Homo sapiens: one gene and its partner. The protein of the gene in region 2 interacts with the protein of the main gene of each other region in a pairwise test. Each region holds a gene or a part of one and is shown on either strand. Other genes may lie near its edges. The genes, in order: LZIC and ZNF558.

Region 1 (8,144 bases), on a different chromosome or scaffold from region 2:
GGTCTTACTTTGTCACCCAGGCTCAGTGTAGTAATGCAATCTCGGCTCACTGTAGCCTCTGTCTCCTGGGCTCAAGCGTCTCCCATCTCAGCCCCTCAAGTATCTGGGCCCACAGGCACAACACCACCACACCCCACTAATTTTTGTATTTTTCATAGAGACAGGGTTTCACCATGTTGGCCAGGATAGTCTTGAACTCCTGAGCTCAAGCAATCCACCCACCTCAGCCTTCCAAAGTGGTGGGATTACAGGCATGAGCCACTGTACCTGGCCTGGACAACTTATTTTATTCATCCCCTTTGTGCCTAGGTTTCTCTGTCTGTAAAAACATGACAAAGATAGTCCTTACCTCTTATGGTTCTTATGAGGATTAAATGAAGTAATATGTGTAAAAGTACTTTGAATATTCCCAATGTGTGGTACATGCTATTAGTGTTTCTGGTGGAAGAGGTGATATTTTACTAGATGATTTACTAGAACTGCATTTAACATTTCTATCATATTTGCCTTGGATTATATCTGTAGTTCTTTATAATATTAATCAGCTAGAGGATTTTTTTTTAAGAAGTACGTCTGAAAAGCTATATGTATGTGTATATATATATATATATATTTTTTTTTTTTTTTTTTTTTTTTTTTTTTGTGGTGGAGTCTTGCTCTGTCACCCAGGCTGGAGTGCAGTGGCGCTATCTCGGCTCACTGCAAGCTCCACCTCCCGGGTTCACACCATTCTCCGGCCTCAGCCTCCTGAGTAGCTGGGACTACAGGCGCCTGCCACCATGCCTGGCTACTTTTTTTGTATTTTTAGTAGAGACGGGGTTTCACCGTGTTAGCCAGGATGGTCTTGGTCTCCTGACCTCGTGATCCGCCCGCCTCGTGATCCGCCCAAAGTGTTGAGATTATAGGCGTGAGCCACTGCGCCTGGCCTGAAAAGCTATATTTTGTATATGGAATGTTTTTCACTTAAGTAACATATGCCTTGCATTCATACGTTTTAGATGGATAGAGATCTGATGGTAGGAAAGCTGGAAAGAGACCTGTACACTCAACAGAAAGTGGAGATACTAACAGCTCTTAGGAAACTTGGAGAGAAGGTACCAGTATTTAATATATTAGTTACAAAGAAAAAGTATGAATTATTTGGTACAGAACATCTTGATCTGTGGTCTAGTTTGTGGTACTAAGACATTCTTTTTTTTTTTTTTTTTTTTCTGAGACGGAGTTCCGCTCTTGTTGCCCAGGCTGGAGTGCAATGGTGCGATCTCAGCTCACTGCAACCTCCCCCTCCTGGGTTCAAGCAATTCTCCTGCCTCAGCCTCCTGAGTAGCTGGGATTACAGGTGCCCACCACTACGCCTGGCTAATTTTTGTATTTTTAGTAGAGATGGGGTTTCACCATGTTGGCCAGGCTGGTCTTGAACTCCTGACCTCAGGTGATCCGCCCGCCACAGCCTCCCAAAGTGTTGGGATTACATCGGCCTCCCAAAGAGCTGGGATTGCAGGTGTGAGCCACCGCACCCGGCCCTCCCCTCTACCTTTTTTTTTTTTTTTTGAGACGGAGTTTTGCCCTTGCTGTCCAGGCTGGAGTGCAGTGGGTCGATCTCAGCCCACTGCAACCTCTGCCTCCCAGGTTCAAGCAATTCTACTGCCTCATCCTCCTGAGTAGCTGGGATTACAGGCGTGCACCACCACGCCCAGCTGATTTTTTGTATTTTTAATAGAAATGGGGTTTCATCATGTTGGCCAGGCTGGTCTCAAACTGCTGACCTCATGTGATCCACCCCCCCCCCCCCCCCACGCCTCCCAAAGTGCAGGGATTACAGGCGTGAGCCACGGTGCCCAGCCTCCTAAGACATTCTTACCTGGTTTCTAGAACCACCTGTAACATTTACCCACTCAACTGGACTTTGTTTCATTTTGTTTAGCTGACTGCAGATGATGAGGCCTTCTTGTCAGCAAATGCAGGTGCTATACTCAGCCAGTTTGAGAAAGTCTCTACAGACCTTGGTGAGTGCCCTCATATTTCTGAAAGCTGGTCGTATACTACTGTCATATATTACATACAAACTGATGGAGAGTGTGGTTGAAATAACATAATAACCTTTCCTTGAGTTTAAGAGTGAAACCAGAATTGTTTTCTTTATAAATCCATTGTATTGGTTTTATTCCCCAATATTAAAAATAAATTAATGCAGCCTAATGTTTTTAAAATACTTGTCAGGTAGACGTAACTATAACAGAAAACTAAAATTATATGCTTGAGGCCAGGAGTTCTAGACCAGCCTGGGCAACATGGTGAGACCCTTTGTCTTCAAAATTAAAAAGCGGGAGGCCAAGGCCGGGTGCGGTGGCTCACACCTGTAATCCCAGCACTTTGTGAGGCCGAGGCGGGCAGATCACGAGGTCAGGAGATCGAGACCATCCTGGCTAATACAGTGAAACCCTGTCTCTACGAAAAACACAAAAAATTAGCTGGGTGTGGTGGTGGGCACCTGTAGTCCCAGCTACTTGGGAGGCTGAGGCAGGAGAATGGTGTGAACCCAGGAGGCGGAGCTTGCAGTGAGCCGAGATTGTGCCACTGCACACCAGCCTGGGCGACAGAGCGAGACTCATCTCAAATAAATAAATAAATGAATAAATAAACAAAATTAAAAAGAAAAAAAATTAGCTAGGTGTGGTGGCATGCACTTACAGTTCTAGCTACTTGAGAAGCTGAGGCAGGAGGATCACTTGAACCCAGATATTTGAGGCTGCAGTGAGCCAAGATCATGCCATTGTACTCCAGCCTGGGTGACAGAGCAAGACCTGTCTCCCCGCAAAAAATATTTCTTCTTTCTTTATTTTTTTTTTTCACAGAAATGTTTTAAAATAAATTTTATGGCCAGGTGCGGTGGCTCAAGCCTGTAATCCCAGCACTTTGGGAGGCTGAAGTGGGTGGATCACCTGAGGTCAGGAGTTCGAGACCAGCCCGGCCAACAGGGTGAAACCCTCTCTACCAAAAACACAAAAATTGGCTGGGCATGGTGGCACGTGCCTGTAATCCCAGCTACTAGGGAGGCTGAGGCAAGGATAATTGCTTGAACCCAGGAGGTGGAAGTTGCAGTGAGCCGAGATCGCACCACTGCACTCCAGCCTGGGCGACAAGAGCGAAACTCCATCTCAAAAAAATAAATAAATAAATAAATTAAATTTTACATATTATATTTCATAGCTAGAATAAGGATTTATAACTAATAAGTCCCCCTTTGTAGCTGGATTGTTTGTGCAGAGGGAAGGAAATTGGGATGGCAATGGGAACGTGTAGGGGTTAATACACTGATAATGGAGGCTAATTATATTTTCTGTTTTAATATCTATATGATAGATTTTTTCCCACTTTACCAGGAATTGCAACTGCACTTGAAATAATCTTTTTGTTTATTATGTGTCTTTTTTCTTAGGCTCTGGAGACAAAATTCTTGCTCTGGCAAGTTTTGAGGTTGAAAAAACAAAAAAATGACATGGTGCAGAAGCTTGTAACATTGATCACATTCTTAATGTAAATGGTGTCTTTCTTCTGGGGTTTTCAGTTATTGCAAAGAAATGAAGAGATTCTGGAAATGCATCAATAACCTAAGAAAAAGCGACATAAAAATATACTTATGGCTTGTGTTTATGCTCTTCATCATTGTGCGTTGTGTGCGGTTACCTGCTTGAGTGATCCTGAACTTGTTGCGACAGAGGGACTCACTGGACTCTGTTCGTTATGATTTGTCTGTTTAAGAGAGAAAACAAAGTGGACTTGATTTTTATTAAGGCTGTTTGTTTTTAAGTGTTGATAGTGAACGAAAAGATGTGAAGTAATGATATTTTTCTGCTTACAACTTATCCCCACTCATTGGAGTGAACAGTGACGCAAGCTCAATAGACTTCATAAGTGTTCATAGAATTTTACAATTCTGAGTGATCTTAGAAATCATTTCTGTTTTTACAAACAAGGAAACTGAGGTCCAGAAAGAGCAAGCGACTTTGCTTAAAGTCGCATCAGAGAGCTGAGGGTAAGACTCAGGTGTCCTGACTCCCAGTTTAGTATCTTTTGAATTTTATTTCTGTACCATTTAAAAAAAATAATTAACACTATTTGTGCAAGTCAGTGTTTTTGAAAATTCAGTGTCCCAATAAAAAGTGGACTGCACACTAAGGGACCATCCCCCAGCCTGTAAGCTGTCTGTATTAATGGGGCCCGTTGTATCTCGGAATTTTGAGGTTGGAACAATGGGAGCCCTGTTGAGCGTTTCCTAAAGTGACTTAGCCGCCTGCGTTGTTTGACCAGGGAAGCAACAGGAAATGGCAGCTAGAGGCCCTCCCTGTGCGTGACCTCTTGTCACACTCAGAGGGGGGTAACTGTCAGCTGTTATCTACTCTTCAGGTTTTGGAGAAACACAAAATAAGTTATGAGGAAAAGCAAATTTCTCTCCTGAGTATTTACATGTCTCTGTATGCTCAAATATGCAGATGTGTCCCTATGCGTGTATATTAGCTTATTTTTTAGGCTCTAGCCATTTTATATTCTTTCATGTGCTTCTCAATATTCTTTTTCTTTGCACTTTATACAAATTAAAAGCATTTTTAAAGCTTCTTCTGTACTGTAAACTACTAGGTGCTTTGCCAACCAGACAGATTAGAGGACCTCCGCTACACTGATGCCTTATTTGGAACTTAAAAGAGGTGAAATTCATATATCATAAAATTCACCATTTTAAAGTGTACCATTCGTTGGCAGAACATTTACAGTGGTGTGCAACCATCACTACTCTCTAGTTGCAGAACATTCTTATCACCCCCAAAGGAGGCCCTATACCTATTAAGCAGTTAGTCCCCATTCCCTTCTCCTCCGACTGCTAACAATAGCCACTAATCTGCACCCTGTCTCTGTGGATTTACCTATTCTGGATATTTCATATAAATGGAATCATATGATATGTGACCTTTTTATGTATCTGGCTTCTTTCACTTAGCATAATATTTTCTTTTCTTTTTTTTTTTTTTTTTGAGACAGAGTTTTACTCTTATTGCCCAGGCTGGAGTGCAATGGCGCAATCTCAACCTCCGCCTCCCAGGTTCAAGAGATTCTCCTGCCTCAGCTTCCCAAGTAGCTGGGATTACTAGTGTGTACCACCACGCCCAGCTAATTTTTGTACCTTTAGTATAGAGACAGGGTTTCACCATGTTGGCCCAGCTGGTCCTGAGCTGACCTCAGGTGATCCAACTGCCTCGGCCTCCCAAAGTGCTGGGATTATAGGTGTGAGCTACCACACCGGGACATCATCATATTTTCAAGTTTAACCAACATTATAGCATGTATCAGTACTTTATTCCTTTTTATGGCTAAATAATATTCCATTGTATGGATATCATATTTTGTTTATCCGGTATCTGTTGATGATTTGGGTTGTTTCCTTCTTTTGGCTATTGTGAATAATGCTTCAGTGAACATTTGTGTACAAATATTTGTTTGAATACCTGTTTTCAATTTTTTTGGGTGTACACCTAGGAATGGAATTGCTGCGTTTGTTGTTGTGTTGTTGTTGTTGTCGTTGTTTTTTGAGATGGAGTTTCACTCTGTTGCCCAGGCTGGAGTGCAATGGCGTGATCTCGGCTCACCACAACTTCTGCCTCCCAGGTTCAAGCGATTCTCCTGCCTCAGCCTCCCGAGTAGCTGGGATTAAGGCATGCGCCACCACACCTGGCTAATTTTGTGTTTTTAGTAGAGATGGGGTTTCTCCATGTTGGTCAGGCTGGTCTCGAACTCCTGACCTTAGGTGATCCACCCGCCTCAACCTCCCAGAGTGCTGGGATGATTACAGGCATGAGCCACCATACCCGGCCTGAGCCACCACACCCAGCCTACGTTTGTTTTTTAAGCCATAGAAGATTCTTCCCACCAGTCGGGCACAGTGGCTCACACCTGTAATCCCAGCACTTCAGGAGGCCAAGGCGGGCGGATCACAAGATCAGGAGCTCAAGACCAGCCTGGCCAACACAGTGAAACTCCATCTCTACAAAAATTAGCCAGGCATAGTGGCAGGTGCCTGTAGTCTCAGCTACTTGGGAGACTGAGGCAGGAGAATCACTTGAACCTGGGAGGCAGAGGTTTCGGTGAGCCGAGATGGCGCCACTGCACTCCAGCCTGGGCGACAGACTGAGACACGGTCTCAAAAAAAAAAAAAAAAAAAAAAAGAGGAAGAAGATTCTTCCCTTACCCTGCAATAGTAGACCAGAAAAATTAGGAATATCTTGAATTTGAAAGGGACCTAATGCCTGGCACAGTGGCTCACGCATGTAATCTCAGAACTCTGGGAGGCAGAGGTGGGCGGATCGCCTGAACTCAGGATTTGAGACCAGCCTGGCCAACATGGTGAAACCCTGTCTCTAAAAAAAAAAAAAAAATTAGCCAGGCGTGATGGCATGCACTTGTGGTCCCAGCTACTCAGGAAGCTGAGGTCAGAGGATCACCTGAACCTGGGAAGCAGAGGTTGCAGTGAACTGAGATCACGCCACTGTACTGGCTGACAAAGTGAGACCCCTGTCTAAAAAAAAGATAAAGAGAGTTACCTGAATCTGGAATCCTTAATCTTGGTTTTCCTTAAACTTTCTATAAGTCCAGCATCTGAAATATTTTGTCAATTATCACATTAATGTGTTCATTTTGTAAGTAAGAGTACTCAATTTAAAATGATCTTACTTTAAAAGTGGCCTAGTTTGCAGTGCCCAGCAGGACACTGACAGTCACAGCTGTGTGACTTTTTGTGGGTTACTTAATTTTTTTGAGCCTCCTTTTCTCTTCTATTCAATGAGGATAATAGGGCCTACCTCATAGGATTATTATGCATTCCCCTCTGTTAATGCACGTAAAGTTTTTACTTGGAAAACTAACTCACCATTTAACAACCATTCTAAGCACCATAGGATATATTTTGTTTCACAAATTTGGTATTCATTCAGAATAAGTATTTGAAAAGTGAGTAAATTCTATGCAATTATAGTTATTAAATGACTTATAAACTGTGTTTCTCTTCCACTTCTTGCTACATTTAATCTTCTAGGTGTTCAGATATCTTTGGAGATTATAGGCAGCAATAAAGCTAAGGCAGCTAACCTTTCAACATTCTTGTGTCAGGCTAATATTTTGGTGAAAGGAATTCTTGTGTTTCTCAAAGAACTAGAGCTGAAGCAGAAATAAGTTCCAATGAGCAAGTGTCCAATCGGACCATTGAATGAAATCTAGTGTTTTAAACAATTCTGATGTTTCAATGTTTTGTTCTGTTTTCTTTTGATCTTGTGAGCAGTAAGACATATTTTATGTGGGTGGTAAAGGAAGAAATCAAGTAACAGAATGAGGAATTGTTCCCAGGAAGAGTTAGAGTTGGGACAAATGGGTTGTTAACTTTGATTTTTAGATCTTCTCTGAAGACATTAAACATGGAATGGTCATCTTTAGAAAAATAAAAGACTATGCAACTCCACCACTGAAATGGTATCTTATTACAGTGAATGATGGATAATCTGAAATTACTATAGAAAAAAATAAACCCAGACCATTTTGCCTAGAGCCTTTCAACCACCTTTCTGTCCACGTTTTTCTTTTTTATTCTATTTATTGCTAAGACCAGTGAATGTTCTTCTTTGCCTTCCAAAATGTTTTCCAGCATTAGTATGTAAATTAAAACTGTCGGCAGGGCGCCGTGGCTCACACCTGTAATCCCAGCACTTTGGGAGGCGGAGGCGGGCAGATCATAAGATCGAGACCATCCTGGCTAACATGGTGAAACCTTGTCTCTACTGAAAATACAAAAAATTAGCTGGGCGTGGTGGCGGGCGCCTGTAGTCCCAGCTACTCAGGAGGCTGAGGCAGGAGAATGGCGTGAACCCGGGAGGCGGAGCTTGCAGTGAGCCGAGATTGCACAACTGCACTCCAGCCTGGGCAACAGAGCAAGACTCCATCTCAAAAAAAAAAAAAAAAAAAAAAAAAGGCATGAGTGGTGGCTCATGCCTGTAATCCCAGCACTTTGGTAGGCCAAGGTGGGCAGATCACAAGGTCAGGAGTTCAAGACCAGCCTGGCCAATATGGTGAAACCCTGTCTCTACTAAAGATACAAAAGTTAT
Region 2 (8,883 bases):
CTAGACTTTGTGGGTTACAACATGGATACACACTGCCGACTTCATTCTGCAGCCAGCTTCTCACATCTAACAATATATCCCGATTGTAATTTAATATAACTAAATGTACATTGACATTGTTGTTTTAAGGCCCATGAATGTCATTTCATACGGCTACACCAGTACTTATTTTGCCATTGTTACTAATCTTCTGTCATATTAAATAGGAGGTAGATGATCAATCCTTTTTAACAAGGTTCAAACATTTCTCTGATTTAGATCACTGTAAAATTGCTGGGTTGATAAATATGCACATTCGTACAGCTTTGGGTATATGTTACCAAGTACCTGCTGAGAAACTGGTACTTATCAATGCTGCTAGCAGAGGGCGAGGTCATTCATTTCTTCATGTCTTGACAAACTGGCCATTTAAAATGTTTTGCATTACTTGAGAGGCACAAACATAATGCCATTATTTTAATTTATGCCTCTTTGCTAATTAGAGTATTGGGCAGTTGTATGTATTTGTAAAGGAGTGTGTGGTTCATAGCCTTTGTCTTTGATGATGTTTTTACTGGCTTGTTCATCTTTTGCTTATTTATCCAAAATATTCTTTATGTAATAATGATATGAGCCCACATGTCATAGATTTTTACAATTATTTATCCCCAGTTTGTTTTGCCATTTAATAATGTGATGGTGTGGAAAATTAAGATACACTTAAGCTGGATACGATGGGGTCATGCCTAAAATCCCAGCACTTTGGGCAGCCAAGGCAAAGGGATTGCTTGCGCTCAGGAGTTCGAGACTAGCCTCTGTGGTGTGGCGAGTCCCTGTCTCTATAAAAAATACAAAAACTAGCTGGGCGTGGTGGTGCACGCCTGCAGTCCCAGCTACTCGGGAAGCTGAGGAGGGAGAATGACTTGAGCCCAGGAGGTCGAGGCTGCAATGAGCCATGTTTGCACCACTGCACTCCAGCCTGGGTGACAAAGCAAGATCCTGTCTCCAAAAAAAAAGAAAAAAGAAGAAAGAAGGAGGAGGAGAGGGGGGGAGGAGGAGGAAAAGGAAGAGAAGAAGGAGGAGGAGGAAAGAAGAAAGAAGAAGGAGGAGGACAAGGAGGAGGAGGAAGGGGAGGAGTAAGGAAGAAGGAAGAAAGGAGGAGGAGGAAGAGGAAGAAGAGAAGAACTCACATTTTTGTAGTATTTTACTTTTTCCACTTTTCTTCTATTATTTTGAGGAAGAAGCACTCATATTTATGTAGTATTTTATTTTTCCACTTTTATTCTCTTATTATGCCTAACTGAAGAATTTATGTGTATAATTCTACATTTTTTAAATAAAAACTTTATTGAGCTACCATAATATTCAACCTTTTAAAGTGTACAGTTTTTACACTTTTGTGTAAAATGGTTTTTAGTACATTCACACAGTTGCGCAATCGTCACCACTATCTAATCTTATTTTCATCTAAAATGAAATCCATACCATTACCCACTTCCCCTCATTTCCCTTTTCCCCAACATTTGCCACTAATCTATTGTCTCTTTGGATTTTCTTATTCTGGAAATTTTATTTAAATTGAATTATACAAAATGTGGGTTTTTTATGAGTGGCTTCTTTTACTTACCGTAATGTTTTCAAGGTTCATCCATGGAATATGTATTCTGTTTAATGGATGAATAATAATCCGTTGTGTGGATATACCACATTTTATTTATCCATTCATCAGTTGACTGATATTTGGGACATACAAAATTTTGGGCTATTATGTATAATGCTGCTATGAACATTCATGTACAAGCTGTCATGTGAACACATGTTTTCATTTCTCTTGGGCATATACTGGAAATAAAATTGCTGGGTCACGTGGCAACTCTATGACTTTTTGAGGAACTGCCAAACTATTTTGCAAAGTGGGTGCACCATTTTACAATCCTGACAGCAATGTATAAGAATTCCAATTTCTCCTTGTCTTTGCCAATCTTTGTTATTGGCTATCTTTTTAATTTTAATTATCCCAATGGGTGTGAAGTAGTATTTTATTGAAGTTTTGATATTAACTTCCCTAATGATTAATGGGGCCGAGCATCTTTTCATGTATATATTTGCCATTTGTGTATCTTCTTTGTAGAAATGACGATTCGAACTCTTTGTTCATTTTTCAGGCTGGGTGCAGTGGCTCACACCTGTAATCCCAGCACTTAGGGAGGCCAAGGTGGGCAGATCACTTGAGGTCAGGAGTTCAAGACCAGCCTGGCCAACATGGCAAAACCCTCTCTCTGCTAAAAATACAAAAATTAGCCAGGCGTGGTGGTGAACGCCTGTGGTCCCAGCTACTTGGGAGGCTGAGGCAGGAGAATCGCTTGAATCCAGGAGGCAGAGGATGCAGTGAGCCAAAATGGTGCCACAGCACTCCAGCCTAGGTGACAGAAGGAGACTCCACCTCAAAAAGAAAAAAAAAAAAAAACTCTTTGTTCACTTTTAATTGGGTATCTTTTTATTGCTGAGTCGCAAGCCTTTATATATTTTGAATACAAGTCATGTATCAGATAAATCATTTGTAAATGTCTTCACCCAGTCCATGTTTGTCTTTTTTCTTGATGGTGTCCTTTGAAGCATCAATGTTTTTTAATGTTAAGTCCAATTTATATATTTTTTCTTTCGCCACCTGTTTTTGATGTCATATCTAAGAAACAATTGCCTAACCCAAGATCACAAAGTTTGACACCTATGTTTTCTTCCAAGAAGTTTATAGTTTTAGCTCTTACCTTTAGGTCTATGATCTATTTTGAGCTCACTTTTGTACATGGTGTGAAGTAGAGGTCCAATTTCATTCTCTGTTTTTTGTTTGTTTCTTGGTTGGTTGGTTTTTTTTTTGTTTTTTTTTGGTTTTGGTTTGTTTTTTTTTTTTGATGGAGTCTCGCTCTGTTCTCAGGCTGGAGTGCAGTGGGGTGATCTCGGCTCACTGCAATCTCCACCTCCTGGGTTCAAACGATTCTTCTGCCTCAGTCTCCCGAGTAGCTGGGACTATAGGCGCCCGCCACCACGCCCAGCTAATTTTGGTATTTTTAGTAGAGACGGGGTTTCACCATGTTAGCCAGGATGGTCTCGATATCTTGACCTCGTGATCTGCCTGCCTCAGCCTCCCAAAGTGCTGGGGTTACAGGCGTGAGCCACCACGCCCAGCCCAATTTCATTCTTTTGTATATTGGCATCTAGTTGTCCCAGCACAATTTGTTGAAGAGAACAGTCTTTCCACAGTGAACTTTCCTAGTATATTGAATTTTGAACTTGTTCATTTTTGCTTAAACTTCCTTCAGCCACCTGAAAATGGATATTTTTGGGAAGCAGAGATCTAACTATTTTTTTCTGAAAGGACGGGTGCATGAAACAATATCATTCATTGAAAGTATTTCTTCCTGGCTGATTTTAAATGTTACCACTCTCTTACATAAAATTTTTTCCCTTTGCACTTACCAGTATCTTTTTTTGTTTATGGTTTTTGGTTTTTGTTTTGTTTTGTTTTTTGAGATGGAGTCTTGCTCGTCACCCGGGCTGGAGTGCACCGGCTGCAATCTCGGCTCACTTCAACCTCCACCTCCCGAGTTCAAGCTATTCTCCTGCCTCAGCCTCCCAAGTACCTGGGATTACAAGGCATCCGCCACCACGCCCGGCTAATTTTGTATTTTTAGTAGAGACGGGGTTTCACCATGTTGGCAGGCTGGTCTCGAACTCCTGACCTCAGGTGATCTGCCTGCCTCGGCCTCCCAAAGTGTTGGGATTACAAGCGTAAGCCACCAGGTCCAACCAGCACTTAGTGGTATCTAACGCACCAACCCACCATGTATTCTATTTATCACATTCACTGTCCATTTCTCCTGCCCAACTCACAACTAAAATGCACGTTCTCTGAGGGCAAGGACGTTTACCTATTTTGTTCAGTCTATATCCATGGTGTATAAAACAGAGACTTGTTGGGGGGGAGGTAATAGCATTTATTCCATGAATATGACTACGGCATACACACATACACACACATACATGTCCACACTATATCTGGAAAGATAGAGGAGAAAATTATTTTTGCCTCTGAGCAAAAGAACTGAAAGACCGTGGTGGGAGAATATTTGACTGACTTTGTACCATTCTTAAGTTTTCCTATATGTGTATCTATGACCCAGTCCTCTCCTGCTCCCCTAAACTCTTAGTGTTAAATCACTATGTTCTGCCTTGGGAAAGCAAGTTATAGACAAATGTGCATACATAATCTGATCCTATTGGGTTGTATGAACATGGGGCAGTAACTGTATCAACAATCTAGGGATCCAAGGAAGGCCCTACCCCTGAATCTGATCTCCCACAATCCTGGCTCCTGGGCCTATCCCAACCCACCCACATCATACACCCTTTTATTCATACCCAGATCCCTGCCCCTGGAACTGGTCTCCACCCACTGCCCCCTCCCCAGGCCTGGTGCAGCCCACAGTCCCGCCCCCAGAACTGGTCTCCGCCCACAGTCAGCCCCGCCCCCAGGCTTGCTGCCACCCCATAGCTCCGCCCCTAGAACTGCTCTCTGCCAATCACCACTGCCCTCCAAGACCGGTACACCCACAGCCTAGTCCCCGCCCTCCGCCCGGCCCGGAGCTTATCTCCGCCCACAGCCAGCCCCAACCTCCAGGGCTGTCACAACCACAGCCTGGTTCCCGCTCAGCCCCGCCCCGGAAATGGAGGTCTCCACCCCTGTAACTGGTCTCTGCTCAGTCATCCCCGCTCTAGAAGCCTTATACCATCCGCCCCGAGAACTGGGCCCCACCCACAGCCCCGACCCTGGAACTGGTCTCTGCCCAATCAGCCTCGCCCTCCAGGCCTGGTACGGCCTCAGCCGGTTCCCCGCCTTCAGCCCCGCCCCGGAACTGATCTCCGCCCACAACCAGCCCCGCCCCCAGGCCTCGTGCGGCTCACAGCCTGGCCCCGCCCCCAGGGCCAACCTTACCCCCGCTACTGCCCCAGGCCAGGGCCCAACTTTGTGCCCACTAAGCAAACTAGAACACCTCTGCCCAAGGCTGGGGTTCGCGGCCGCCGCTCCCGCCCGCCGCGCCTGTCGCCTAAGCGCCGAACCCCCAACACGCTCGACTCTGCGAGGCTGCCCGCGCGAGCCGGAAGGGGACGTGCAGCGCACCTCTCCCCAGACCGGAAGCGGAAGCGCGGGGCGGTACCGTGGGAGGGGCCGCGCGTGGGGCAGCGGGGAGCGAGTCCCTCCGTCCCCGCGAGTCGGCGCTTTTGGCCCCGCGGGAGGGGCCGGGCTCGGTGAGCGACTGGCGGGGGCTCGGGTCCGAGTCCAGGGGGCGACGTGGGCCGCGGACACCGCCAGCCACGGGCCCTGCGTCCCTCCAGGGAGCCGTGTTTCGGTTCATGAGGCCTCGGGCTGTGAGCTTAGGTCAGCACGAAGCTGCTGCTTGCTCCTGGGTCGGGGCCCCGCGCCGCTGTTGCCTCCTCAGGGAACCCCAGTCGCCCTCACCCGGGGCGATTCCGCACCCCAGGGGACTTTTGGCTGTAGCTGGAGACGACTGTGGTTTTCACAAATTGTGGGGAGGGGAGGCTGCTACTGTCACCTAGAGGGTGGAGGCCGGGGAAGAGGGACGCTGCTTGCTCTTAAAGATCCTACGTTGTACAGGACAGTCCCCCACAACAAAGAATTATCAGTAGTGCCAGGTTGGGAAACCCTGCTCTAGGGCCTTAAAAAAAAAATCTCTGCAGTTCTGAATAAACTACATAAATTGTTAAAAATTCAGTTTAGTCACTTAATAGGGCCTCTAAGTGACAAGATATTTTTAAAGCCTGTGGAGTCACCATAGAATCTCTCTCCAGCGTAGTAAGTTGAGCAAGTCAAATGCACACAGCGTTAAGCTGCTTTCTCCCCTCTTACGGAGCAGATGGCCAGATGGGAATCAGGTAAAGCCAGTCATGGCCCACAGGCTGGGCCCTTATTACACATTTAATCATTGAGTACCCAAAAAAAGTGAATGGGATGGTGTTTCCGGCAGCCGTATCCAACAACTGTACAACCTATACAAAGCCTCGAAAGAAATCTTTGTGTCTTTTTTTTTTTTTCAGATGAGAAAAGCATCATTCAAGCTCAGATTCGTGTTGAAGCCTGCCACAAGGTCCACCTGTTGTTGTGGGTTTTTGGGTGACCAGGTGAGTACAGTGTGGAACCTACAACAAGGTTTCAGCAGGCTCTGCTGTGTAGAAGAACTCCTCGTGGGCTTTTCCTGTGCTGGGGTTGTAACCACATTGAAGTCACTAAGAGTGAAGGTATCTTAAGGAAAGTTCAAGGTAAAAAGACAGAGGTGTTTATGGTTACATGTGTGTAAATAAGTAAATACAGTTACATGCAAATAAGTATCCACAAAACAAACATACAAATAACGTAAAGATGTGTAACTGTAGCTAAAGACAGATTTTCTGGTATGCCGTAATGCTAAAAGTTTCTGAATTTTATATAAGTATAGAAAATATTTACATGTATATGTAGTGTTACAAGTCTTCCCACTAACAACTAGCAGGACTACTTAGCAACATTTTTCAGGCCTGTTTGATTTGACTTTTTTTTTTTTTCTTGAGACCAAGTCTCACTCTGTTGGCCAGGTTGGAGTGCAGTGGCGCGATCTTGGCTCATGTCAACCTCCACCTCCCAGACTCAAGCAAATCTCCTGCCTCAGTTTCCTGAGTAGCTGGGACTACAGGCAAGTGCCACCACGCCCAGCTAATTTTGTTTGTATTTTTAGTAGAGACAGGTTTTTGCCATGTTGGCCAGGCTGGTCTTTAACTCCTGACCTCAAGTGGTCCGCCCACCTCAGCCTCCCAAAGTGCTGGGATTACAGGCAAGAGCCACCGCACCCAGCTGTTGATTTGATTTCTAAAGGCATATTGGCCCTCCACCAAACTTCAAAATATAAGGGCATTTGTAAAAAGGATGATTTATTAGTAACAAATTTAAAATTAAATTGACCGGCGACCAGATGTGTTTTGAGTAATGGGATTTTTTTTTTCCTAATGAGATTTGAAAACATTTGGAAGAATATTAAGCAACAACTTATAGATTGAAGGGTAGGGAACTGGTTTCCAAAAAGATTGTCCTCTGCACCTTGCCTCCTGTATTAGTCCTTTTTCACACTGCTATAAAGAACTACCTGAGAGTTTTCACACTGCTATAAATAACTCCCTGAGACTGAGTGACTTACAAAGGAAAGAAGTTTAATTGACTCAGTTCTGCATGGCGGGGGAGGCCTCAGGAAACTTACGATCATGGCAGAAAGCAAAGGGAAAGCAAGGCACGTCTTACATGGCAGCAGGAGAGAGAGAGAAGACATAAACGCCAAACTTCTAAACCATCAGATCTTGTGGGAACTTACTATCAGGAGAACAGCAAGGGGGAAGTCCGCCCCCATGATTCAGTCACCTCCTACCAGGACCCTCCTCTGACACATAGGGATTATTACAACTCGAGATGAGATTTGGGTGGGGGGACACAGAGCCAACGATATCACCTCCTAATAGGAATTAACTTTGTTTCTTAAAACTTCTCTGAAATAACAGTATGGTGATTCATATTGCAGAGAATCATGTTAAGTAATCTAGTATTAAATTGTGGGGTTTCTACTAATTGTGTGTGTGTTCACCTTTTCCATTCTAGCTTTCCTACAGCATTCTTGAAGGAATGTTTACTTATCATGCAATAGATATTATTTGAGTGCACAGTTAATGGTGACCAACCATCCTCATTTTTTCAGGACCAAGGGGTTTGCTAGGGCACAGGGCATCCAGTGTTCAAACCGGGACAATCCTTGGCAAACCAGGTCGCCTCCATGAGTCAGGTCCTAGGTCAGATGCACAGGGACCCTGGAGGACCTGAAATGGCCCCTGTCCTACATAAAGTTTACCTTCTAACAGGGAAGATAAATTTTAAACCATGAATGACAGGAGTGATGTGGGAGCTTGGCACTAGTGAACTTGATCAGAGGGAACAGGGAAGCTTTCTTGGGAAGGATATTTAGCTTGAGAGCTTAAGTTGTTACAGAACCAAACTGGGGTCTGCTCACCTGGTGGTGCAGTGAAACCAGATGTCTATATTGAGGGTTGCTACGATAGATAGAAAGGCTTTTATTGCACAGCACTAAGCAAGGAGGACCAGACATTAAATGTTCAAATCCTGGCCTCCCCAGTGGCTTTTAGGCAAGGAATTTTTTTTTTTTTGAGATGGAGTCTCACTCTGTTACCCAGGCTGGAGTACTGTGTTGCAATCTCAGCTCACTGCAACCCCCGGCCTCCCGGGTTCAAGCAGTTCTGCCGCAGCCTCCTGAGTAGCTGGGATTACAGGCGCCTACCACCATGCCCGGTTAATTTTTGTATTTTCAGTAGAGACGGGGTTTCACCATGTTGGCCCGGCTGGTCTTAATCTCCTGACTTCGTGATCCACCCGCCTCAGCCTCCCAAAGTGCTGAGATGATACAGGCATGAGCCACCACACCCGGCCTTTTTTTTTTTTTTAATGAGACAGAATCTCACTTGGTCACCCAGGCTGGAGTGCAATGGCACGATCTCAGCTCACTGCAACGTCTGCCTCCCAGGTTCAAGTGATTTTCCTGCCTCAGCCTCCCCAGTCCCTAGGATTACAGGCACATACCACCACACCTGGCAAATTTTTTGTATTTTGAGTAGAGACAGAGTTTCACCATGTTAGCCAGGTTGGCCTCAAACTCCTGACCTCAGGTGATCCGCCTGCCTAGGCCTCCCAAAGTGCTGGGATTACAGACATGAGCCACCGTGCCCGGCTAGGCAAGGATTTCTGAAGGCAATGGTAAGTTACAGAAAAGCAGAAGCTACAGGCAAAATCATAAAGCA

What was found.
Region 1: the proteins of ZNF558 (region 2) and LZIC interact in binary tests that used the Homo sapiens proteins (3 or more experiments, as listed by UniProt).

Annotation. Positions count from the first base shown.
Region 1 is NC_000001.11:9,925,753-9,933,896, reverse strand, and holds the end of LZIC (protein LZIC), read left to right. Parts: intron 1-998; coding exon 999-1,094; intron 1,095-1,924; coding exon 1,925-2,006; intron 2,007-3,439; coding exon 3,440-3,498; coding exon of another isoform or gene 3,499-3,541; 3' UTR 3,542-3,568; coding exon of another isoform or gene 3,569-3,585; 3' UTR 3,586-7,604; downstream 7,605-8,144.
Region 2 is NC_000019.10:8,828,612-8,837,494, reverse strand, and holds the start of ZNF558 (zinc finger protein 558), read left to right. Parts: upstream 1-5,190; 5' UTR 5,191-5,286; exon of another isoform or gene 5,287-5,416; intron 5,417-6,093; 5' UTR 6,094-6,177; intron 6,178-6,603; exon of another isoform or gene 6,604-6,725; intron 6,726-8,883. UniProt on the Homo sapiens protein: May be involved in transcriptional regulation.